5 separate regions of the Homo sapiens genome follow, and all the other regions are linked to region 3. The links come from fine-mapping of genetic effects on gene expression. A gene starts in region 3. Each other region holds a variant in brackets. All regions are shown on one strand. Distances are between the middles of the regions. Region 1 overlaps EVL (Enah/Vasp-like). Region 2 overlaps LOC102724682 (a long non-coding RNA gene). Region 3 holds the start of EVL (Enah/Vasp-like). Region 4 overlaps EVL (Enah/Vasp-like). Region 5 has its middle 110 kb from the start of EVL.

The links.
Region 1: its variant is fine-mapped to the expression of EVL in monocytes (TOPMed, PIP above 0.99). The same link has a PIP of 0.9 or more in blood mononuclear cells.
Region 2: its variant is fine-mapped to the expression of EVL in subcutaneous fat (GTEx, PIP above 0.99).
Region 4: its variant is fine-mapped to the expression of EVL in whole blood (INTERVAL, PIP above 0.99).
Region 5: its variant is fine-mapped to the expression of EVL in platelets (CEDAR, PIP 0.95).

What each region holds. Positions count from the first base shown.
Region 1 is chr14:100,092,754-100,097,856 of GRCh38, reverse strand. It overlaps EVL (Enah/Vasp-like), which reads right to left. Exons shown (of 14, transcript NM_016337.3): 3 at 199-376. Among named protein-coding and RNA genes, the nearest start is that of MIR151B, 14 kb to the left of the region's middle. The variant C/G (reference allele first, on the strand shown) is at 2,788.
Region 2 is chr14:99,944,081-99,949,183 of GRCh38, reverse strand. It overlaps LOC102724682 (a long non-coding RNA gene), which reads left to right. Exons shown (of 6, transcript XR_007064328.1): 2 at 1,076-1,249; 3 at 3,710-3,861; 4 at 4,637-5,103. It also overlaps the pseudogene RNU1-47P. Among named protein-coding and RNA genes, the nearest start is that of EVL, 120 kb to the left of the region's middle. RefSeq lists an enhancer at 2,143-3,071. The variant A/G (reference allele first, on the strand shown) is at 2,798.
Region 3 is chr14:100,063,013-100,068,115 of GRCh38, reverse strand. EVL (Enah/Vasp-like) reads right to left here and starts at 2,694. Exons shown (of 14, transcript NM_016337.3): 1 at 2,605-2,694. The coding sequence starts at 2,615. It overlaps LOC124903379 (a long non-coding RNA gene), which reads left to right and starts at 4,072. Exons shown (of 2, transcript XR_007064329.1): 1 at 4,072-4,986. RefSeq lists enhancers at 319-388, 1,821-1,890, 1,951-2,030, 2,411-2,550, 2,601-2,680 and 2 more.
Region 4 is chr14:100,119,000-100,124,102 of GRCh38, reverse strand. It overlaps EVL (Enah/Vasp-like), which reads right to left. Exons shown (of 14, transcript NM_016337.3): 4 at 501-564. Among named protein-coding and RNA genes, the nearest start is that of MIR342, 12 kb to the right of the region's middle. The variant A/G (reference allele first, on the strand shown) is at 2,161.
Region 5 is chr14:99,951,932-99,957,034 of GRCh38, reverse strand. No RefSeq gene overlaps it. Among named protein-coding and RNA genes, the nearest start is that of EVL, 110 kb to the left of the region's middle. The variant G/AG (reference allele first, on the strand shown) is at 1,943.

The DNA of each region.
Region 1 (5,103 bases), 30 kb before region 3:
TACAAACTCCATTCTTTCCTCCTCTGAATTGTTAATATCTCTAAATCTAAAGGCAGGCAGCAGGTTTCTCTGAGAACACATGCAACCTCAGCTCAATGCAGTGACAGTGCTAGGATACCCGGAGAGCCAGAGCTGTGGGAGGGCAGAGGTAGAACAAGAGAGGGTCTCAGCATCAGGCCAAGACAAAGCCCTACTTACCTCCTTCTTGGGAATTCATGATGTTCAGGGCAAACAGCATTGCATTGGAGAACGTGGTTGCCTCTTCTTTACTTGCAAAGTTTAAGCCGTAGACCTGGCGGGCATCTCGCCACTGGTGGAAGGTTGGCGTGGCCTGATTGTACTTCAGCCCTTTCACGATTGAATAATTGATCACAACCTGGAGGAGAAAGGAGAGAGAAATACGTGTAAATAAATAAAATGTAAGTGAGCTCGAGGGCGCTGCGATGGAGCAAGTATACTGTATCCTTGAGAGGACAGGAAGATGGGGATGGGGTTTGAAGAAGGGAAAAGCAATATCAGGTAGACTTTCAGACCATAATCTATAGAACAGTGAGGGTTTGCAAAACCTGTTCTTTCCTTTAACTAATAATGCTATGTAGTTACAACCTCCAGATGAACAGCTGAGCTGGGAGGCAGGTTCCCTGGCTCTGGTTTGGCCCTGCCTCTCAGCCACTCCACTCATGGCAGTCACTGCACTTTGCTGGGGCTCAGTTTCTCCACTTATAAGATGGGGATAATAATTCTGGCTTTACCAATCCAATGGGGTTACTGCGAAGATCACATTGTGATACGTATCTTATTTATAGCTTACCTTCTAGATATAAAGCTCCTAAGGGCAAGTCTTCTATAATTCATATTTATGCCTCCTATAGCCCTCTGCATAGTGTCTAGTACTTTGAATGCATTAATAAGTGGGCTATGTGTCGAAAGAATAACTTGGGAAAGTTTATGTACCACACATGTATACAGCATTATTCATATCTTATTACTCAATCAAAAAGCATCAACTGACTGCCAGGAGCAATGCCAGGCCCAGCAGGGAAGGATACAGAGACGACAGAATCCAGACATTCAGGTGCTTACAAGCTGCTAGGGGATTCAACACCAGGTCTGCCTGACCTCTAAACTTCTGCTCTTTCAGAGATTTAAAAGAAGATTATTTCAAAGTACTTTAAGACTATATTCCTAAGTCGTGCCCTGGAGGAAAAGATGCTGGGGCTGGAGCCCTCATTCTGCTTCCCATCCCTTCTAGCTTGGAGTCAGATGATCTAACATCATGACACTTATGAATGATCGGTTTTCTGGTCTGTCAAATGGAGAAGAATGTGATATGGCTATGGCATGGCACCCTCACAGTGTGTTGTGAGGATTAAATTATATATGAGAAAGTAACTGACACAGCTCCTGGCACAAGGTAGGCTGCCAGTGACTGAATGGAGAAATATGAAGATCTCTACGAATGGAAGTATGCAAGCAGAGTCTGGATGAGGCCGGAGAGCCAGCTCTTAGAGACGCCATGGAAAGGATTTTGCTTTAGAAGTACAAGATGATTTCTCAGATTTTGTCTGGCTTTAAGGTTGCAAGGACTGTGTGATCTGAGGTTGGGGATAACGCTCTCTATGCTGATTTATCACTTTCCTTTATTGCTCCACACTGCTGTGCTGCTGGATAAGGTAAAGCCAGAGGACAGCAAACATGAGTGACATCCAGAAAAGCTGTTTTCCAAGTCTTGGGTGGAAGGTGGGCTTGGGTCTTCCTATGACAGGCACAGGCAGGGAAAGAGGGGACACACACACAGTACACTAAATCAGCTAAAAAAACGTAATTGAAGCTGGGCATGGTGGCTCACACCTGTAATCCCAGGACTTTGGGAGGCCAAGGTGGGCGGATCACCTGAGGTCAGAAGTTCAAGATCAGCCTGGCCAATATGGCAAAACCCCGTCTCTACTAAAAATACAAAAATAAGCCGAGAATGGTGGTGGGTGCCTGTAGTCCCAGCTACTTGGGAGGCTGAGGCACGAGAATCGCTTGAACCCAGGAGGTGGAGATTGCAGTGAGCCGAGATTGCGCCATTGCACTCCAGCCTGGGCAACAGAGCCAGACTCTGTCTCAAACAACAACAACAACAACAACAAAACCTGTAATTGTTTCACAACTTAATTGTTACATATTGACAGGCACATATTTTGGCCAACAACTACACACAAGTTCCAGGGTAGTTCTCTGTTTTTTTGCTCTTTGTGCCAGGGGTATAGATTCACATGCACACACAGCTAAACCAAAAGAACTAGACTGGGGGTGACTAGGTTTAGTTATAGGTCATCAGAAAAAGGACTCATAAGAACTAGCAAATAATAACTAGTAACTAATAACTACCAAATAATAAGAACCAGCAAAGTTAACTGTTGTGAAAACAGCTCTTTAGATTATAGGACACATTAACAGTGGTACAGTGACCAGCATGAGGGAAGAGAAGAACCTGCTCCATTCTGCCCTGGTAAGTCCCTATCAGAAGTTCTGTGTTCAAGTTTTTTGTTTTCATTTTTGGTGTTGCATTTCTAGTGGACAGTAGCAAACTGAAGCAAGCCAGAGGAAAATGCTTTAAAAATTGAAGAAGGTCTTGAAACCACCTTATATCAGGAATGGTTAAGAGATACTGAAGCAAGATAAAAGATACTTTAGTGTCTCACGACTACTGTCTCCAGATACGTGAGGAGATATTCTGGGGAAATGAAATTTAGAACCCTATGATTTGACTTGATTTAAAACAAAAAAAATTTTTAGTAC[C/G]GTTTTTGTTTTGTTTTGTTTTGTTTTTTTAGACGGAGTCTCGCTCTGTCACCCAGGCTGGAGTGCAGTGGTGCGATCTTGGCTCACTGCAACCTCCACCTCCCGGGTTCAAACGTTTCTCCTGCCTCAGCCTCCAGAGTAGCTGGAACTATAGACGCCTGCCACCACGCCCAGCTAATTTTTTGTATTTTTAGTAGAGACGGGGCTTCACTGTGTTAGCTGGGATGGTCTCAATCTCCTGACCTCGTGATCTGCCCGCCTCGGCCTCCCAAAGTGCTGAGATTACAGGCGTGAGCCACCGTGCCTGGCCCGTAGTATGGTTTTTTAAGATGGAGTCTTGCTCTGTCGCCCAGGCTGGAGTGCAGTGGCACGATCTTGGCTCACTGCAGCCTCCACCTCCTAGGTTCAAGTGATCCTCCTGTCTCAGCCTCCTGAGTAGCTGGGACTACAGGTACATGCCACCATGCCCCATCCAATTTTTTTTTTTTTAAAGTAGAGTCAGGGTTTCACCATGTTGACCAGGCTGTCTCGAACTCCTGACCTCAAGTAATGCTCCCGCCTTGGCCTCCCAAAGTGCTGGGATTACAGGCATGAGCCACTGGGCCTGGCCTAGAACCCTATGATTTGAACTCTCTGGTTGGCTACATTCTTAGAGAGGAACTTAAGATGAGTGAGAATTTTTCTTTTTTTCCAAACCTCAAAGTGGCTCTTGGGGGGGAAATGAGAATTGAGGGGCAGATGACGCCTAATCCAGAATATGGACAATATGGCCAGCAGACAACCACTGAAGGGGCTAAATAGCACCTTAGGGATTATCTAACTCAATCCGCTCTTTTTACAGTCAGGAAATGAGGTCCAGGGAGAATGAGTGACTTGTCCAAAGTTACACAGTAAGCTAATGGGGAAATTGGATTTAGAAGCCGAGGACTTCGTGATTTTTTTTTGTTGCCAGTATGGTAGTCCCCGCTTATCCATGCAGAATTGGTTCCAAGACCCCCAGTGGATACCTGAAATGTGGGTAGTACAGAACCCTATATAGACTATGTTTTTTCCTATACATACATACCTATGATAAAATTTAACTCATAAATTAGCCATAGTCAGAGATTAACAACAATAACTAATAATAAAATGGAACAATTATAATATTTGGAATGGCACATAATTTAAAATTTATGACTTATTTCTGGAATTTCCCATTTAATTAATATTTTCAGCCTGCAGTGGATCTTGGGTATGTGAAACCTCAGAAAGCAAAGCCACAGCTAAGTGGAGGACTGTTGTATAATGAGCTGAAATCCTTCTTCCTATAATTCCCTCTCTGGTCCTAGCACTAACCTTTGGAGCCTCATAAATCACTTCCAACTCAGGAAGTTTTAGGATATGGGACTGAGAGAGTGCAGTGAAGCCTTTCTAGAGGACGTATCCCAGTTCTGTAAGTTCTCTGGGCTCTGCCACACATGCTTGGTCGCTGATTGAAGGCCCCTGGCCCTGCCGTTTCTGTTCTATCTACAACTGCAGTACAAAGGCTGCTCACCAACTGCTGCTGTTTGGTGTCTACACACAGCCCCCAACGGTCTATGACTGCTTTGAAGACAAGCATACTAGGTACAAGGAATGAGCAGAGGGTTTTACGTCAGAGGGTTCTGCATTAAAACCCTGGCGTTATTACTTTTCAGCTGTATAACCTTAGACAAGTTGCTCATATCAGTTTCCTCACATGTAAGATGAAGATAATATTATAAATAATACTGCACTGAATATTCCTGTGAAGATGTATTTCTACAGGATATATCCCTGTAAGCCAAATGGCTAGAGAGACATGACCATTACAAAATTTATATTTATTATTTGAAAATTGACTTCTAAAACAGGAGAGTCCAGTGCAATGTGTTTTGGATGTATGTGCAGTGACACAAGGCCAATGTCACTTGACCATTTGTTGAGGTGGCCAGTGTTTATTAACTGCCAGACCTGACCAGCCAACAGCTAAAATCTCAGTACCTAATGGTTCCACCTCTTTGTTTACTCTGCTTAGAGTGAGTCAAAGGATCCACCTGAACACGTGCATTTTTGCAAGTCCACTTTTGGGTGAGGCTGCTTCATTTAGTACCCATCACCCAACACTCACTTGTAGAGATAACCATGTTTCTTATTTCTAACACCATTGGCAAAATGTGTCTGTTCTTAAGCTACATAGAAATGGACTCCTGTGGTATATGGTATGTACTCTTTTGTTTCTGGCTTATTTCCCTCAACACAATCTTTATGAGATTCACCATGTTACCGCATATATCCATATTTCATTCTTTTTGT
Region 2 (5,103 bases), 120 kb after region 3:
TCTGGTTGTTTAAAAGCATGTGGCACCTGCTCCTCTCCGCTGTCTCTTGCTCCTGCTTTTGCCATGCGAACTGTCTGCTCCCACTTCACATTCTGCCTTGAATAAAAGCTCTTTGCTTTGAGGCCTCCCCAGAATCCAAGCAGATGCTGGCACCGTGTTTCCTGTACAGCCTGCAGAACCATAAGCCCGTTAAACGTCTTTTCTTTTTTTTTTCTTGAGACAGAGTCTTGCTCTGTCGCCCAGGCTGGAGTGCAGTGGCATGATCTCAGCTCACTGCAACCTCCACTTCCCAGGTTCAAGCGATTCTCCTGCCTCAGCCTCCCGAGTAGCTGGGACTACAGGTGCGCTCCACCGTGCCTGGCTAAGTTTTGTATTTTTAGTAGAGATGGGGTTTCACCATATTGGCCAGACTGGTCTCGAACTCCTGACCTCGTGATCTACCTGCCTTGGCCTACCAAAGTGCTGGGATTACAGGCGTGAGCCACCGTGCCTGGCCATGCCCAGCTAATTTTTGTAATTTTAGTAGTGGCAGGGTTTCACCATTTCAGCCAGGCTGGTCTCGAACTCCTGACCTCAAATGATCCATCCACCTCGGCCTCCCACAGTGCTGGGATTACTGGTGTGAGCCACCATGCCCAGCCATCTTGTCTTTATAAATTACCCAGTCTCGAGTATTTCCTTTTCTTTCTTTCTCTTCTTTTCTTTCTTTCTTTCTTTTTTTTTTTTTTTTTTTAACGGAGTCTCACTCTGTTGCTCAGGCAGAAGTGCAGTGGGGTGATCTCGGCTCATTGCGACCTCTGCCTCCTAGGTTCAAGCCATTCTCCCACCTCTGCCTCCCAAGTAGCTGGGATTACAGGCATGGGTCACCATGCACAGCTAATTTTTTTGTATTTTTTATAGAGACAGGGTTTCACCATGGCCAGGCTGGTCTGGAACTCCTAACATCAAGTGATCTGCTTGCCTCGGCCTCCCAAAGTGCTGGCATTACAGGCATGAGCCACCGCACCCGGCCTTCAGGTATTTCTTTATAGCAGTTTAAGAACAGCCTAATATACCCTCTTTCTTCTCTTCAAAGAGGGGCGATGGATCCTGCTTCTCGGGTCTGTATGAGATGAGATGAAATGACAATTCCTAATATGGATGAGGAAGTGGAGCAACAGAGACTCCCAGGCTGCCAGTGGAGCTGCTGTGGAGAATGGTTTGGCAATATTTAATGCATGCCCCAGAAAATCAGTAGTCCCATTTCCAGGTAGGATCCCAGATAATTTCTTGCAAACATGTACAAAAAACTTGTGCAATAATGTTTGTGGTTATGTAACTGGATGTTGAAATGAGCGTTCAGCCGAGGAGCCAAGATCCAATAGATGTGTCTTCCAGAGGCACTGTTAGACCATGAGCAGCAGTTACAAAAGAGGTTCCCGAGACACCTCCTGGGCATCCTCATCCACGATAAGAGTACTAAAGCGTTGGGAATTAGACATTTTCAGAAGTAATATTTGCAAGGAGGATTTCTTTGGGAGAAAGTTGAGCTGCTGATTCCAACCCTGCTTCTCCTGAGGGAGGACCAGGGAGGGTACTTCTGCCTAAGCCACTTGGAGGGCTTGAGGTGTGCCATCTGCGATTTGTGGACCAGTGCCTCAAAAGCGCCAGCTGCCCAGAGAAGGCTGCATGTGGAAGGCAGTAACTGCCCACCCACTGGTGCAAGGTGTGGGTGTGGGAGGCACAAGTGTCCCCTGAGACCAGATGTGAACCTCCAAGCAAGGATCCAAGCAAGGTCGTCTAAGATCCTGTCTAGCGGGCTTCCCCGGAGGGCGGTGGGATCTCCGCAGGAAGGAGGCCGATGGAGGCAGCCCTCCCGGTGCTTCAGGGCTGCAGAAGGAGGCCGCACCTAAACAGAACACCTTCATTCAGGTCCAGGGGACTGCAGCTGAGAGGCGATCAGCAACGTTGGGGTTCTCCAAGAACCTCTGAAAGCTCTCTCAGAAGGTCAGTTGAAACATACGCCCCACCCAGAAAGTCAACTAGAGTTTCCCTTTCTCTCTCCACACCCCAACCCTCCCCAGGTCAGAATCAGCCCTGGCAAGCTGGAGAGAGGGGCGGTGCTCTGCTCTTCTGCCACCAGGTGGCGCACCTGCAGTTGGCCGCGGGGCTGGAGGGGGCTTGGGAAGGGGAGGTTTTCAATTTATAACCCAAGTTCAAGGTCTTTTCATAATTACTTATTCAGTCTGCTAGAGCAGCTACTCGTGTTTTCAGCCTAAATAGCCAAATTTGTTCTTAACTGGCCCGCATTATAAGCCCAGGCGTCACCTGTGTTCCAGAGCCCCTGAATCTCACGTCCCCTCCGGCTTCCCGCACGCCGGGGTCCCCTGAGATCCGGGGCAGTCAGCGAGAAAGTGTGTGCTACCCGCAGCCCCGCCCCAGCTCCCTAGCGCAGGGTGGTGTGCGCGTGTGCCCCATTTTTATTGAAACTTAGAGTTGACCTGCGGACCCCCTGGAACGCCCCAGGAGGGCACGGACTTCCTGCAGGGGAGGCTCCCCTTAAACAAGCCTCCTTCCTTCAAGAGGGAACTTGGTACTCCGAAAGGCTTCTGTGGTCCGGTCTGGCTTGCCAGCAAGGTAGGGAAGATCCAGGCTGTCTGGCCCAGAAGGGGGTCTCCTGAGGTGGCCTAAAGCACAGCCAGGGATCCGGCAGGAGATGGAAGGAGCCCAGGTTTCAGACAGCACTGAGCATCCCGTCTGCAGGAGATGGGGAGGGGCAGGGATGCCACTAGGCATCGAGCAGCGGGGTCAGGGGGGA[A/G]GAATTGGGCTCTGGAGAAGGGTTCAGAACTGGGGGCTGCACGCTCGACACCCGACCCTGAACTGCTCAGCAGGGAGGCCAGGCAGCTGTTCTAGGCTCCTGTGCAGCCAGGCTCTGAGACACAGCATCAGGCTTGACAGCCCGAGAAACTGAAATCATCAAGTTTGTCAGCTGTGATGATGTCATGGTGTCCTCACACAAAGTGTCTTCACCACAGCGGCAGACTGAAGTATTTATAGGTGAAACGACATGGTGGCTTAGACTTGCTTTTTTTTTTTTTTTTTTTTTTTTTTAGAGACAAAGTCTTGCTCTGTCACCCAGGCTGAAGTGCAGTGGCGCAATCACAGCTCACTGCAGCCTCCTGGGGTCAAGCGACCTTCCCTCTTCAGCCCCTGAAGTAGCTGGGACTACAGGTGCACTCTACCACATTCAGCTGAGTTTTTAGTTTTTTGCAAAGATGAGGTCTTGGTATATTGCCCAGGCTGGTCTCAAAGTCCTGTAGGCTTGTTTTAAAAAATACTCCATCTTGGCCAGGCACGGTGACTCACACCTGTAATCCCAGCACGTTGGGAGGCTGAGGTGGGCAGATCACGAGGTCAGGAGTTGAGACCAGCCTGGCCAACATGGTGAAATCCTGTCTCTACTAAAGATACCAAAAAGTTAGCTGGGCGTGGTGGTGCGTGCCTGTAATCCCAGCTACTCGGGAGGCAGAGGCAGGAGAATTGCTTGAACCTGGGAGACGGAGGTTGCAGTGAGATGAGATCATGCCATTGCACTCCAGCCTGGGCAACAGGGCGAGACTCTGTCTCAAAAATACAAAAACAAAAACAAAAACTCCATCTCCCCCAAAAGTTAGGGGAGACAGAGGAAACAAGATTTTCTAAATGTTTGATTTTTTTTTTCTTTAACCAGGGGAAAGCATGAACACAGCCCCCATGACCACAGATGACGCAGCCGAGTTTCCCACTTTTGGGGAAATTGCAGGGGTCAGCACGTCTGGAGTGCAGTGGATAAGCCTCACCCCAGGAAGACCACTTTCGTGATCACGGCATCTCCCCTGCCAGGTGAGTACGCTGATCATTTTTAGTCTGGGTGAGAGGCTCTCTCTACTTTTGTGTATGTTTGAAATTTTCTGTAAAGTTTTTTTTTTTTTTTTTTCAGACTGAGTTTCGCTCTTGTTGTCCAGGCTGGAGTGCAGTGTTGTGGTGTCGGCTCACTGCAACATCCGCTTCCTGGGTTCAAGCGATTCTCCTGCCTCAGCCTCCCAAGTAGTTGGGATTACAGGCATGTGCCACCACACCCGGCTAATTTGTATTTTTAGTAGAGACTGGGTTTCACCATGTTGGCCAGGCTGGTCTCAAAACTCCTGACCTCAGGTGATCTGCTGCCTCGGCCTCCCAAAGTGCTAGGATTACAGGCGTGAGCCACCACGCCTGGCCAAAGTTTTTTTTAAAAAAGAGAATCTGCAGGAAGAACAGGTCTGGAGTCAGTTTTCACCTTGCATCAAGCGCATGTTCCCTAGCTCCTTTTCACCAAAACCTGTCCCCCTAGTTGTGGATTGGACCATCCCCATCTACCCTTTCCTATGCGCTCCTGTGCCTGTAAGATAGGATGACAGCAGCCTGTTCCCAAACCACAGAAGAGATGGCTAATGAATGGAATAGCCAACCTTTGGGCGTGGGAGTAATCATTCAAAAAAATGTGGGGGGCTGGGGAGATGCCAGAATGGGCTTTCCAGTGAAGCAAAGACAGCCCCTGCCAGGGAGTCCCTCTCACCCCGGCGGCCAGGACCTAAGATCTACCAATGCCAAGAATCCACTGAACTTTGCCTCTCCCCAGTTCCAACCGGCCTGGAAGCTTCCTCCACCTCCACACCCCCCGCCCCCACTGGGCTGACAGCCCAGTGCGACCCGTGGCCTCATGTTCTCTCTTCCCTACGTGGCTGAGGCTGTCCCCACCTTGCCTGGATCTCCTGCCTGGCACTGCCTGCGCATGGAGATGCTGGAATGCCGGTTGCTAAGCCAGTGCAGAGTCCACACTGGCTCCTGGCAAGCACTGCATCGAGCTGCCCTGCTGCTGCAGACGCAAGATCCTCCACGTGTGGGACTGTCTCCTGCTCCACCATGGCCCTCCTGGCTCTCGCTCCTCTCCGGCAGCCCACTTACCTGCCCTTGGATTCTGGAGTCCCCCAAGCTGGCTTGGGAGCCTCTTTTGGCCTGGGTTGAGCAACCTACAATCTCAAGCACACCTTGGCTCCCAAAACCAGCCTCCGGGGAGAGCCTCCCGTGTCCACCTCCCACAGGATG
Region 3 (5,103 bases):
TTCACGTCTCTTGTTGATGGTTTCTTGACTATATTCTGCCTCCCGACTCTGCCCTCAGTTTGAGGACAAGACTGCCTGTCTTGTTTACCACTGTGTCCCTAGCACCCAGAGCAGCCGCTGGGTGACTGGTTGCCTGTGATGCCTGCCAGTGCCTTCTAAAAAATCATCCCTATTCTTCAAAGTTCACCTGAGATCCCACTTTCTCTTTGAGGTCTTCCCTGACAGTCCCCAACTTCTCAACTCTTACTGCCCCTCCTGTCTATGCTTATTACTCTCTGTGCTGCAGGGTCCTCACAGCCAGTCGCCTCCTCATTTCTGTGAGTGCTGTCTTCCTCACTCCCTACCAGTCCCTGAGGACAGAGGCAGCTCTAATTCAGGCGTAAGAGCAAAAGGGCAAAGCATCTGTGGTCAGGAGGCACAGGTTCAAGTCCTGGGTCTATCACTCACTGGCTATGTCTCTTGTCAAGTTACTCTCTCCTGTGAAACAGAAACAATAAAAACAATGCTAGCTGGGTGTGGTGGCCCACACCTGTAGTCCCGCTGAGGCAGGAGGCTTGCTCGAGCCCGGGAGTTTGAGGCCAGCCTGGGCAATAAAGCAAGACCTCATCTCTAAAAAATACAAAAACAAAAACGCCCCACAACACTACCTTCAGGATTATTGCGATAACTAAATAACGTCAGTGAAAGCATTCTGTACGTTGTCATGCACTCAAGAGAATTCCCAGCTCCTAATCCAGTCAGGGCTTGGAAACTGTTTCTTGATTGGTGGGTAGCCAGAGCTAGAGCTGGTAAGATATATTTTCACATTTAAAAGGTCCTTTGTATCCCCACCACAGGCGCCACGGTATCCCCATGTGTCAGTCAGCATGAGGAAAAACGAAAAGTTCACAGCTCCTATGGCTGCTGACCTTGCAGCTCCACGAACGCTGCTTCCACCAGGACTGTCACTATGGTGCCAGGCCAGGGACCTGTGGCAGAGTGCAAGCAGCCTTGTACGGGGGAGGGACGCACCAGAAAACCTGGGCTTTTGCTTTGGTTCAGCCACTACTCCGCTCCCCGTACACAAATTCTGCTCCACACTGGGCCTCAATTTCCTGATCTGCGCACTCAAGAGCTGGGCTAGATTAGTGTAATCTTCAGACTTGAAAGTCATCACCACCACCAACAATGACTGTTTTTTCTCAATGAATTATCAAGGAATACATAGAAAACATAAAAGCAGAGTTATTTTGGCTGAAGTGGAGAATAAGGTGCCCAAAACATCTTATCTACTGTAGATCACCTCCAAGGTCTTTTCAAGATGGAAATTTCTAGGATTTCTACGATTTTAAAATTGAAAAAGAAATTGCTGTGCCTCATTTACTTTTGATATAATTTTCTGCAATTAGTAATTGACACGGTAGAATAAGCTGCTAGAAGTTTTCACAATGTAATTTACAACTGAAAATGACTTTGGAAGTTGATATGCCTTTGAAATGAAAAGCATTCTGTTTTCTAAAGCTCCACTCACGAGTCCTCTAAAGTTAAAGGAAAGTTACTAAAATGACAGGATCAGAAATAAAGCCAACTGGAAAATAAGCAGCCCTGGACAAGTTCTACCTATCACCACGTCAATTTTAACAACTCACTGCAAGCTGCTTCTGTGCCTGTGTAGCGTGCTGCGAAAACCACCGGATGAGGCCAACCTCGTTAAACCCTGGTTCCATTCCTTCCCCAACCTGCCATGTGACCTTGGACAAACCCCACAACTTTTCAGAGGTTTTCTCAGCTACGAAACAGGAGTGATGACAGCGTTCTCATCAATCTAACACGGCTAAAAGATTCAAATAAGAAAACTGGCGAAATGGCACTTTGGAAATTGTGAAATAATTTTCAAAGTGAGGGATTGTTACTTTATGCTAAAAAACAAAGCTGTCATGAGTCAATCAAACAAATGCCCCAAACCCCACAGGATAAAAGTCTGTCTGTCCTATCATCTATAATCTTTCAGAGTTGTAGGGCAGGGGAGAGGCAGGTCCAAAATGTAATCTCACCTTTAGAGAGAACAATCTCAATGAGGAGTGCGGTTTGTAGACTGGCTGGTATTCACACATGTGCTCAACAGCAATAGCCTAAGTCCACAAGTCTCTCAAGTGGAGGGTCAGGACTCTTGCTATTAAGTTCATGAAGTTCCTATCATAAAAAGAACCCTCTCTGCCTATATTTAGAAAAAACAACCAGTCTCGGGTCATTCTAGAGAGAAGGGCCAGGACTCACCAAATGTACCTCTGAGCTAAACAACAATTCCCCTAGATGGCTCAGACCCTCCTCCCTATAATGAGAGGCAGGTGCTAATTTCTAAGTAAGTCCTTGACTCAGAAGCCATTAAAGGTCACAGGCATCAAGAGACACAGGCCTGTGTAATGGAAAGACCAGCGGCTAGAGAGGGAGCAGACTGTCACTAACCTGCTGTGTAACCTCATGTAAGCCCCCTGCCCTCTGGTCATGGACTTCTCGATCAGTATACTAAGGGGACCTGAGATAATTTCTACAGCCCATTCACCGTTAAGATTCTAGGTTTCCTCTTGACATCCCTCTGTCCCCTGCACTGGTTCCAATACTCACCTTGTGGCCATGGCTGAAAAGTGGCAGCACAGGGAACCCTGAGGAGGCGAGTCCTGTACTCCCACCAGCCTATGTTGATCAGAGGACCACAGACCCTCTGAAGACAGCAACTTGATTTTTATAGCCTACTTAAAACCAAACAGGAAAAGGAAGCTGAACCAGAGACAAAGGGGAAACAAACCCAAGTGAAAAACTGAAACCTAGGTAGAAAATAGAGAAACAAGAAGCTAACACTGCAGAGCCCCACCAGCGTGGGCGGCTGAGAGGCACTGCACAGGCCCAACCCCCCACAGCTGGCAACCTCAAGCCTCTAAGTGCTTCCTGCAAGGGTGCAAGGGTGGGTGAAGCCTGCTGGAGGTAGGGGCCAGGTCATGGTGCTGGCCCCCCACTAACTAGCTCTATAGTCTAAGTCAATGCCACTTAAGATGTCTGAGCTTCAGTTTTCCATCTGTTATAGAAAGTGCAGGCTCAGCACAGATGACTTCCTATAGGCCTTAAGAAAAGGCTACAAGAACTCGGAAGAGTCCCCACTGACTCTCCAGAGAATAGAAGACTAGATGATAAAGGCTATAAGCTGATCAAGTCTTTTTTTCTTTTTTGAGACAGAGTTTCACACTCCTGTCACCCAGGCTGGAGTGCAATGGCACGATCTTGGCTCACCGCCACCACAGCTTCCTGGGTTCAAGCGATTCTCCTGCCTCAGCCTCCTGAGTAGCTGGGATTATAGGCATGTGCCACCATGCCCAGCTAATTTTGTATTTTTAGTAGAGACGGGGTTTCTCCATGTTGGTCAGGCTGGTCACGAACTCCCGACCTCAGGTGATCCGCCTGCCTTGGCCTCCCAAAGTGCTGAGATTACAGGCGTGAGCCACCGCGCCAGGCCACTGATCAAGTCTTCATATTTGACTCTGGAACAAAATTTGTACTTCTACCGAGGAGACAACTCTCTCTAATGATGACATTTAAGTCAGCAATTTAGAGCCTGAAAGGAAAACACTTGAGGAATACTGGAAACTTGGCTTTGTCACTTGTTTATTAAGTGGGTGGCCTCAACTGTAAAATGGGGTTATACTTATTTTGCCTATCTCCACAGGGTTCTCATGAAGGTAAGATCCAGTCCAATCTTTCTTTCAAAATCTACTGAGAACTCACTAAGAAGCATGCACTGTGTTAGAAATCACAGACAAAAAATTGAGAACGACTGTACTTGTCCTTAAAGGACTTTTATGGTTTAGAAAAGAAGAGGTTGATAATGTTAGCAAATATTTAATAGATCCATTAAAATATTATTGATATAGTGAAAAACAGCTGTACAGAGTACAGTACAAAAGAAGTATCAGTTCTAATTGGAGAGATGAATGCACTTTGAATGCTAAAAATGCATTTTAAAAGGCTTTTAATGATATACATTTCCCTTTAAGCACTGTTTTAGTTGCAAACCACAGTTTGGATGTATTGCAGTTTTCTTTTTTCTTTTGGTTCAAAATATTTTTAATTTTCTCTAGTGATTTCTTCTTTTATCCATGGATTATTGATAAGTGCTTCGTTAAATTTTGAAATATTTGGTGTTTTCCTATATCTGTTGCTACCTATTTCCAATTTAATTCTACTGGGGCCAGAGAACATATTTGGTGTGACTTCTTCCTTTGTTTTTCCTGGTATGATCTCAATCCTTTCACATTTATCAAAATGTGCGTTATGGCCCAGCATGCAGTCTACCTTGGCGGATGTAGCATATGCACAAGGAAAGAATGTGTATTCTGAAACTGGTCGGGTGCAGTGTTCTAGAATGTCAATTAGGTCATGGTGGTTAATAGTATTGTTCAGAACGTCTACGTCCTTGTTACTTTTTGTTGCTGTTGTTTGTTTTTGTCTAATTATTCTATCAACTGCTGAGGGAAAGGTCCTGAAATCTTCAACTGTGACTGTGGATTTCCCTCTTTAATTCTGTCACTATTTCTTGAAGCTCTTGTTAGGTACATTTTTCCATGCAGCATTGGTTTTCTGCGGCTGCTGTAACAAATTACCACAAACTGAGTGGCTTATAACAACACACACTTATTATCTTAGAGTTTTGTAAGATGATAGGAGGTCAGAAGCCCAACATCATCAGAAGTTCCACATAGGTCTCTCTTGCTCACCTCTCTCAGCTTCTGGACACTGACTGCATTGCTTTCTCATAGCCCCTCTGTCCACTTTCAAAGCACGCAGCAGTGCTCCGACCCTTCTTCCACAGTGACATCTCTTTCTGACCGCGGTGTGGACAGGTTCTCTACTTTTAAGGACTCGTGTGATTAGACTGGACCCAATGGATAATCCAAGATAACCGCTCCATCTCAAGGTCCACAACTTTAATCACGTCTGCAGAGTCCTTTTTGCCATGTAAGGTAACATTTTATTTATTTACTTTTTTAGAGGCAGGGTCTCTTGCTGTCACCCAGGCTGAAATGCAGTGGTGTGATCATAGTTCACTGCAGCCTCAAACTCCTGGCTCAAGTG
Region 4 (5,103 bases), 56 kb before region 3:
CCACGACTCTGTAATTTCGGGACAACAGCCTTGGCCCTTCCTCTTCCCCACTGTGGTAACACTTTAGAAGCTCCATGGGGTGAGGGGGTTCATTCCTATGGTCCCTAGCCCCATCCCATGGGCGTGACTGCCCCAACAGGCTGAATCCCTCATGCCTGGACTGCCTCCTGCTACGTTGGGGAAGGGCAAGTGAGGCAACAAGGGAGCAGCACTTGGGCCCTGCTGGGTCACCCTGAGAGCCGTCCCGCTGGAGGTCAGCAGCACTCTCTGTAGAATGCCAGACTCCCACAGTCATTCCTGGTCTTGGTGTCCGGGACCAGCGGCTGCGCATCGGCCCCCTCTTTCTTCCTGGTCTGGCTTGCACCTTGCACCCTCCCGCAGTGTATGCCTCTAGGAGTCCTGGCCTTGGCTGCTGGTGCATCCTCACCCGCTGAAGGCACCCCTGGCCACCCAGCCTGATTGGGAGATGACCAGCCTGGCCCCTGCGGGTGCTGGGTTACCTTCTCTGGATGTCCATCTCATCAGGAGAGGGGCCATTCTGCACCTGACGCTGGCTGGAGGGGCCTGTGGGCAGAGAAGCACAGAAACAGTGTGGTTAGAGGAAGAAAGGCCCCAGCAAACCCAACTGGAGTGCTCTCTATCTCTGCCCACCTTCTGGCTGCAGAAGAGACATCCTTAAGAATCTTTTTAAATGTTGGCCTCACTCACACCTGTGCATCACTCACTCCATCTCCTCTCTCAATCACCCTCTCTCTCTCACGGCTCTTCATTCTGAACCAATAAATGAGACCCAAACTTTCACATGGTTAAAAATTAACCCTTTCAGTTACTGACCCTGCTCGCCTTCTCTCTCAAACTATCTTCTCACTGCTTCGACCTTCTTGCTGGCCACCACCCCCTCAACCCTTTAACATTGAATCTGGCCTCTTTACATCCCACCAGGATGTTCTAATTAAAATCAGCGGGGAACTGGGAATTGCCAAACCTAACAAGTCCACTTGATTCCACTTTCTGAGCAAAGGACTGACACTGACAGCTGGCGGATGTCTTGGTCAGAGTTAAAACCTGGGTGTGTCTGAGCTGAGGCCTATGCTTCTAGACCTGGGGTGACCCCTGCTGTCTACAAAGGGTGTCTGGAGCTGCGGGTGGGAAGGAGCCAGACCCTGCCCTTGCTCCCCTTGTTCTAGACTGGTGTGGAACTTTCTGGCCACACCCTGCCCTGGACCCTGAAGGAGGGACCCCGGCATAGGCGAAGTCTGCTGTGCAGACCTCCTGTTCAGAGGAGGCTGGAGCTGGGGCCTGTGCAGGGCTTCCCATGCTGTGCCACAGTTAAGCTTCTGCCGCCACCTAAGAAAGAGCTGACTGTTCCTTCTCTGCCAGCTCAGGTGTCACTAGGGAACTGCAGAGAGTCGCAGTGACTGGGAGAGGGACTCTGGGCAGGCTGCTCTCATACCTCCCTGACAAGATGGGGAAGTGGCTTTGTTTCTGCCGCAGGATGGGGTCACAGCAATATTCAAGTTACAACTGCACTGATGATGTGGGGACAGCCCTGTTCCCTCCTACTTCATAGAGGACCAAGGTCTTAGTGGTTCTTCCCTCCTTGTTCTCAAGAAACAGAAGGAATGAATATGTGAACATTATTACCAGAGCAACGTCCAGGCACTTTTTAAAATTTAATGTTAAATTTAACTCTAATTCTCACAGCCCTATAAGAAGGCTCCCATAAGGACTTGTAACAGCTGGGAAGCCAGGCCCAGAAAGGCTAAATGGCTTGCCCAAGGTCTTACATACAGCAAGTGGCAGATGCAAACCAACTGCAAATGCCACGTTCTTTCTTAAACTCAATCAGACAGTGGTGTCAGATTGAGACCAGCTTGAAGAAAGAAGGATGAATGTGGCAGACTCATAAGCTGCCCTTGGATGGTGTGCAAGGTGCTGTGGGCATGTGTCCCCCCGCCCCCTGACTGCCACTCATCCTGGCTGAGGCGGGAGGGATTCCTGGCGTTTCAGCTCCACGTCCGGGACTTGCACCTGAGCTGCTCTGCTGTGAGCTTGGCACAGGCTTTGGGCTCTGGCTTGGACAACTGGACATCTGCCTTGTTCTAAGACCGGGTCTCAACGGCTGAGTTCACTCCTGGATCTGGATTTTGTCCTTCTGGG[A/G]GCTGAGTCCCTGTCCCAGCGACCCTGTCTAGCATTTGGTCTGAGGGTTGGCCCTGCCCTAGGATGGAGGCCTTTCCACGCTTGGGCTCCACCAGCTGTCGCAAGATCCTTCTGTGTCTGTGGTCTGGCCTTGCCCAGGTCACTGTAACTGTTTTCCACCCTTGTCAGGACCCCGATGGCAGCCAGCTGCCCACACACAGGCCTGTGTGGTTGTGTGCTTTGGATTCCCCATTTTGCCTGCTGGGCTGACGTCCTCCCAACACCCTCCCAACCTGTTTCTCCAGAGGCTGGGAAAGTCTAATAGGAGCCCTGGCCCTTCCAGAGGGCTCTGGCCCCTGCACCTAAGACCTGATTAAAAATTGGCTGGAGTTTTAGACCCGACAGAGCAGGAAAGGATAACACTTGATTGCACTGATTACGTAAGGCTTGCCATTCTTCTTAAACGAAGAAAATGTTCAATTGTTTTGAGCCACCATGGCCCTGAACATTATAAAAGTACAGTCCTTTTGTTTTAGGGGTGGGAGCTAAGGCCCAGCAAGGCGCAGGGGTCTGTCCAATGTCACCCAGGGTAACTGTGACAGACCTGAGGTTCCCATCGCCCCCTTACTCCTGGCCTCCTCCGTCCCCCGGCACAGCTTCCCCGTGGCAGTCGGGGGGAGGGACAGGGAAGGTCATTGCTGCAGACTGCTGGTGGCCCTTGGGAAGCTCCAAGCAGCAGCCCCTTGGCAGGTGCTTGTTCAGTGGGAGGAGTAGCTAAGGAAGGCTCCTGGCTGCTAGTAATCAGACTCCCTCGTGTCTAGTGGTGAGGCACTACACATGACTTCCCTGCGTGATGCAGGCAGAAGCCAAGGCGGAGGATGTGGCACCTGTCCCGTGCTGCAGATGAGCACCTTGGAGCCACCTCTCGTCGCCCGAGCTGAGCTTGGATTCCACAGGAGTCAGGGCGATGGGGATGGTGGGAGTCCCAGCTCTTCCCTCTCTGCCTCCCACGGCTCGTTAGGTAACGGAGTCTTGTTGGTGCTGTGTCGGCTGCCCCACAAAACACCCTGCTTCTCTGCTGCCACCTGGCAGCCTTGGCGTCTCTCTCTTGGACCCTCACCTCCACTCTCTCTCATTCTGACAGTGTGGCCTAAGTGATGTCTGGGAAACACAGACATGACCTGCACAGGGTTGGGTCCAGGCTCCATTGAATAAGATTCAAGGTTTCAGCCTAGGCCCCAGGCCACCTTGTGGCTGCGCCTCCCCGACAGTCCTCCATAGCTGACCTCCTGCACCTGGACACTGGGCCCGGCCCCACCATGCTTCCTGTCTCTCTGTGTTTTGTGCGCTACTCAACCCATGTGGGTCACCTTTTCCTGCCGTCTCCACCAAGCAAGGCTTCCAGGCCCAGCTCAGTGGTCACCTCTTCCATGAAGCCCTCCCCAGGTCCTCATGCTCCTTCTCACCAACCGGTGCCCATGCGCCTCTCTTAAAAACTGACAGCTTTCTCACCCATATTCCAGTAATTTGGGAGCTGCCTTCTTTTCTGTACTAGACCCTGGGCTTCTTGCAGGCAGAGAGCACGTCTCACTCCGCACTCCACGCTCATAGCCTGGCTCGCATCAGACACTTAGTTCATATTCCACTGAACTAAGTCAGGAAGGGGAGAGGGGGCTCAAGCTCACTCACCCTTGGGGAAAAGTTCAGGTGAAGGAGTCATGCTGAACTGACTTGAGTGAAAAGAAAAACCTAGGAGGTGAGCCACGGAGATATAGGGATTAGAAGGGGTCCCCCAAGTTCATGCTTGTCCAGAGAGGATGCAGCAGTGTAACGATGCCCTGCCAGCACCAGGTACCCTCTGCTGACCAGAGGCCTTAGGGACAAACTAAAGTCACAGAGCTGCTGACCCAGCCTTTTTCTCAGGGCTGTGAGTTTCAGATGCCTTTCTGCTAGAGGACCCTGTGGCTCTGCACACAGTGGCAGAGCGCAGAGTCACCTTCTGTGGCCATGAGGTGCCCTCCTTTGTACAGTGAATGTATGGCAACGATGGTCTGCGGATCACATCTTAATTGTCTTGTTCCCATGAGGTACTAACCTGGGCAGGCAGTGGGCACGAGAGGACCTGGCCTAAGTTCTGCCTCACATCTGCCTAGTCATGCACCCCTAGGCAAGCTGCTGTGCCCTCATCTGTAAAATGGGAGTCCTAATACACTAACGCTAACAGTGGTACCTCACCAAGCTGCGGTGAGGAATAAACAAACTCTAGGAGTAAAAACCACATGGTAATCCATAAAGTGCTGGAAATATTTGTTCGCATTACTGTTGAAAGCACACTGTTGATCTTTCTGCTGAGTTGGACGGGAACCTGCCTATGTGCTGGCTTAAGTGGCCCTCTGCCCCCCAAGCCTTGCTGGTGTGGTCCCCTCGGTGGAGCGCTTTCTTCTCCACAGGCTGCGTGCACTCACTGCCCAGCTGGTTCCACCACGGCCCCCTGAAGTATACGGGATGAGTGGTGGTGGTTCTCAGGGGTGAGGGGACTTGCCCAGAGCCACAGGGTTTGTGACGCTGGCCCCAGTGTCCCAAGCTTGTTGAGTCTGGGAGCTGATTTTGCCGAGGCAGGGGCCTGGCCCATTCACCTGGGACTCCAACTAAGAAAACTCTCACCCTCTTCTCATTCATCTCAGACAAATTTTGTCAAGTCAAAATAAAGAGGATGAGATAGGAAACAAGCATGAGAAGAAATTCAAAAATTAAAAAAGGAAAAATAAAAGAACCCATCATGCCACAGACAAATGAAAAAGAGAAAGGGAAATTTCAGGTCCAACATCAAACAAGAGCAGGGTGGCTGGGCATTCATGGTGTCATGTGGGTCCAGCCCTTGGTGGCAGGGCTCACCACTGGTAGCAGGACGGGCCATAGGTTCCCTGGCTGACCTCTTCTCTGAACACAAAGAGCTGCAGGAGG
Region 5 (5,103 bases), 110 kb after region 3:
ATCATTTGAGGTCAAGAGTTCAAAACCAGCCTGGCTAACATGGTGACACCCCGTCTCTACTAAAAATACAAAAATTAGCCGGGTGTGGTGGTGGGTGCCTGTAATCCCAGCTATTCGGGAGGCTGAGGCAGGAGAACTGCTGGAGCATGGGAGGCGGAGGTTGCAGTGAGCCGAGATCCTGCCTCTGCACTCCAGCCTGGGAGACAGAATGACACTGTATCTCAAAAAACAAACAAACACACAAAACAGAACAAAAAAACCCAGCAAAATAAATAAAAAGAAATTATGAGGAGGAAATGAATAAAGATAAAAGCTGAAAATAGTGAATTAGATAACTGAAATACTGAAAAATAAAATTAAAATATGCTTCTTCAAAAAAAAATTGAAAACTCACAATGTGCAAGAAATAAAAGAGAAAAAAAAGCACAGAACAGAAGGAATGAGAAATGAGACAGACTCACAGGGGCAAATGAGAGGAAGTTAATTTCCAGGGGATGTTATTGCAGTTGCATTTCAATAAATGTCCACCTGTTCTACATGCAATGGGTGATTTTCTTAAAAATCAAGTAAGTAGAAATGTTGGTAATAGGGGAACTTAAATTGGAAGAATTTTAAAACCAAACTATACCTGGGGGCACCTGGGTGGTTAACCACTGGGGGAAACCAGCCACCTCGGGCCGTCCTTGAAAAGATGTGCATTGTAACTGTGAATAACTGAGCAGGCTCCTGTCAAGACAATAGTTGAGAACCATCCCAAGACTGAGCCAGGAGCCCGGCAGGTAGACCCCGCTCTGCCACCCTTCACTGTGGGGATTTGGGCAGGTCCTTCCTCTCCCTGAGCCTCTGTTTCCTCCAGAGGCCGCTCCAAGATGGCAGACTCTGGAGCCCCGTGGGGCAGGTGGAGGTGGCCAGGGCAGGGGGTGTTAGGGAGGAGGAAGGAACAAGATAGGGTGAGAGTGCTTCTGAGTCACCACCACCTCTGACTGCTTCTGCCAGAGCAGCCCCATTCTTAACCTTATTACAGAGTGGATTTTCTTGTATGATTTCATCTGAAAAAAGGTTTTGCTGCTGGTATTAGTCAGGGTTCTTCAGAGAAACAGAGCCAATAGGATGTATAGTGTATAGACAAATAGAAAGAGATTTATTATGGGGGATTGGCTTATGCGATTATGGAGGCTGAGATGTCCCATGATCAGCCATCTGCAAACTGGTGGCCCAGGAAAGCGGGTGGTGTGGTTCCAGTTCACATTTGAAGGCCTAAGAACAAGGGGAGCTGGTGGTGGGAATCCCAGTCCAGGTCCAAAGGCCTGAGAACCAGGAGCTTCAACGTTCTGGGGCAGGAGAAGATTGATGTCCTAGTAGATGTCAAACAGAGAGAGAAAGTTCGCCCTTCCTCTACCTTTTTGTTCTGTTCAGGTTCTCAACAAGTTGGATGATGACCCCCCAGCCCCCCCACCCTACCCCCGCATTGGTGAGATCAAGCTTCCTTAGTCTACTGATTCTCTTCTGGAGACACTCGCAAACACCACCAGAAAGAAGGTTTGACCAGCTCTCTGGGCATCCCTTAGCCTAGTCAAGTTGACACATGAAATTAACCATCACACTGTTGAAACAAAGTGTGAAAACCAGGTGATCCCCCAACTTCCGAGCTACTTCCACGTCCAAACTTCGTAACATTCACCTGGCAAAGTTCACTGGTTTTGCTTTGATAACTTTCTGGTTTCTTTGAGTGATAAAGATGTTCATAATTTAGCCCCGAAATGGAGATGAATATGTGTGTGACGTGTGTGTGTGTGTGTGTGTGTGTGTGTGTGTGTGTGTGTGTGTTCCTTCTTTCGCAAAACCACTGCCTAATTTGGAATATAATTTCAACTTGCTTTTCCAAAATGACCTAGAGCTTGGCAAGAGCATAGGGCTGATGAGCCTGTGAGGTGGGTAGATA[G/AG]CTTCCTCACACATGCCCGACTTTCTCCTTGGAGAATGATGAGGTTTACAGCCTTTAGGTAAAAATAGCTTTGTGTGGCTTCCGCCAGGAAGACACTTAAAAAGGGAGAGAGGATTAGGTTGCTAAAAAAGAAAAAAATCTACCAAATTGCTACCATAATTTTGGAATTCATTTTTGCAAAACATATCAGAAGACATAAAGATGATCTTGCCTGCTAACTCAGTAATTCCACTTCTGGGCATTTGCCTCAAAGAAATAAATTTAACTAAAAGAAAAGCTCAGTGGACAGCTGCTCACTGCAGTCTCCTCTGCCATAGCAAAACACCCAAAGCAAGAAAAGATGCTCAGGGTGAAGTGTGAAGGGCAAAGGGTACTGCAAGTTCAGAGGCTCACAGTCCACTCCTTCATGTATTCACCAAACACTTCTGATAACATGTGGGCACCAGGCACTGTGCTAGGTGATGGGAAAGAAGAGTGCCCGAGATGCAGAGTGCTTCCACCTTAGGGTGCTGATTGGCAGAAAGGCTGGAGGCACATAAACCTACACCCACAATTCAGCATGAGAAGGGAAGTACAACAGAGGTGGGGACACAGAGGAGGGACAAGAACCAGCCTTGGCACTCAGGGAAGCCTTCTCGGAATAAGTGACTTTTTATTTTTTTTTGAGACGGAGTCTTGCTCTGTCGCCCACACTGGAGTGCAGTGGTGCAATCTTGGCGCACTGCCACCTCCGCCTCCTGGGTTCAAGGGATTCTCCTGCCTCGGCCTCCTGAGTAGCTGGGACTACAGGTGCCTGCCACCATGCCCGGCTAATTTTTGTATTTTTAGTAGAGACGGGGTGTCACCATGTTGGTCAGGTTGGTCTCGAACTCCTGACCTCAGATGATCCACTGGCCCTGCCCTCCTAGAGTGCTGGGATTACAGGTGTGAGCCACTGTGCCCTGCTGGAAGTGACTTTTGAGCTGAGTTCTGAAAGTTATGGTGGTTGGCCAGAATGATGAGAGGAAGAGGGTTGGGGGCACAGAGCATGAGCAAAGACCAGGTGGCAACGAGAGGCTGCCGTGGTGGTTGGACAGAGAAAAGCTCTGTGGCAGGAGCTGAGAGATGGTGCTGGAGAGGAACCAGAGCTCACTGACCGGTCCTGTGTGTAACATGAAGGAGCTTTTTCCTAAGAATTTTTAAGCAGGAGAGTGATATGGTCAGATTTATGGTTTGGAAAGGTCACTCAGACTGCCTGGAGGAAGGTCAACATGGCTGCAGCCAGGCCAGCAGTGATGGTGGCCCTCCAGGGCATAGGCAGCATCCGTGGAGAGATGACGTGGACACGTGCCCTGGCTCCTCATGGAGCAGAGCCCTCGATTCTGGAAGAGGCAGAATGGTGCTGTGGTTGAGTGTGATCTTGGAAACCTGACTACATGGGTTAAAATCCCAATTGTTTCACTGTGTGACCCTCTCACAGGGCTGTTGAGAGTGTTGAAGGAGCCGTCATGCATAAGGCACCTCCAACAGTACCTGGCAAGGGGTGGGTAAGAGCTCGCTGAGTGATGCTATCGAGGTTGTCACTTATTGGCTGCTTGCTGATACAGGCAAGAGGAACACCCACATGCCTGGCATGGGCCACTGGGAGGATGGCATGCGGGTTTTTGGGGGAGAAGTGGATGAATTGGGTTTGAGCATGTAGAGATGGAGGCTCCAGTGAATGAGCAGATGGAGACATCCTGCAGGATGTTGAACACAGAGGTTTGAAGCTAGGAGACAGGCTGAGTCAAAGATAGTGATTGGGACCTTGTAAGGGTTGAAGAGGCGGCTGGCCCCAGGGAGCTGATGAGATAACCTGGGGAGAAGGTGGAGGGAGAAGAGAAGAGGGCCCCGAGAGAGCTCTGTGGCAAAGGGATGGACCAGGAAGGTTTTTTTCTAACAGGAAATATTTGAGCCTGTCTAAATGTTGATGGAAGGAGCATATAAAGCACAAGTACACTGTGGAGAAATGGCATTCAGTAAGGGTGGCCTTTAGTATTTTTTATTATCATCATTATCACCATCATTACCACCACCATCACCATCACCACCATCACCACCATCACCACCATGATCACCAGTGTGAAAGGAAAATATCTTGGGCCCCTTCAAGCTGGGAACCGCTCAGGACAAATCTGCCTCTCATTCTATTCAAAGTCATCCCTCTGCTCACAGAGATACATGCATATTCTGATTGCCTCCTTTGGAAAGACTTATCAGAAACTCAAAAGAATGCAACCATCTGTCTCTCACCTACCTGTGACCTGGAAGGGAAGGGGTGGGGGGGTTGCTTTTAGTTGTCTCTGCCTTTTTGCATGGAACTAATGTAATTCTTACATATATTCATTGACGTCTCATGTCTCCCTAAAATGTATAAAACCAAGCTGTGCCCTGACCACCTTGGCACATGTTGTCAGGACTTCCTGAGGCTGTGTCACGGGTGTGTCCTGAACCTTGGCAAAATAAACTTTCTAAATTAACTGAAACCTGTTTCAAACTTTGGGAGTTCACAACAGTATCACCACCATCATCATTACCATCATCACCACCATCAGCATCACCACCATCATCACCACAATCATCAGCATCACCACCATCACCATCACCATCACCTCAGCATCACCACCACTATCACCACCACTAACACCGCCATCACCATCACCATCACCTCAGCATCACAATCATCATCATCATCACCATCACTATCACCACCATCACCATCATGTCAGCATCACAATCATCCTCATCATCATCACCATCACTATCACCATCATCACCTCAGCATCACAATCATCATCATCACCACCATCATCAGCATCACCACCATCACCATCACCTCAGCATCACAATCATCGTCACCACCACAATCACCATCATCATCATCACCATGATCATCAACATCACCATCACCTTCATCATCACCATCACCACTAGCAGCAGCATCACCACCATCACCACCACCATGAAACATCACAACCATCATCATCACTATCACGCCGTAACCATCTCCACCATTATCACCACCATGATCACCAGCATCACCACATCATTGGCATCAACATTATCACCATTACCATCACTGCCATCATCAGCACCACCACCACCACCATCATCATCACCATCACAATCTTCAATATGAGAAG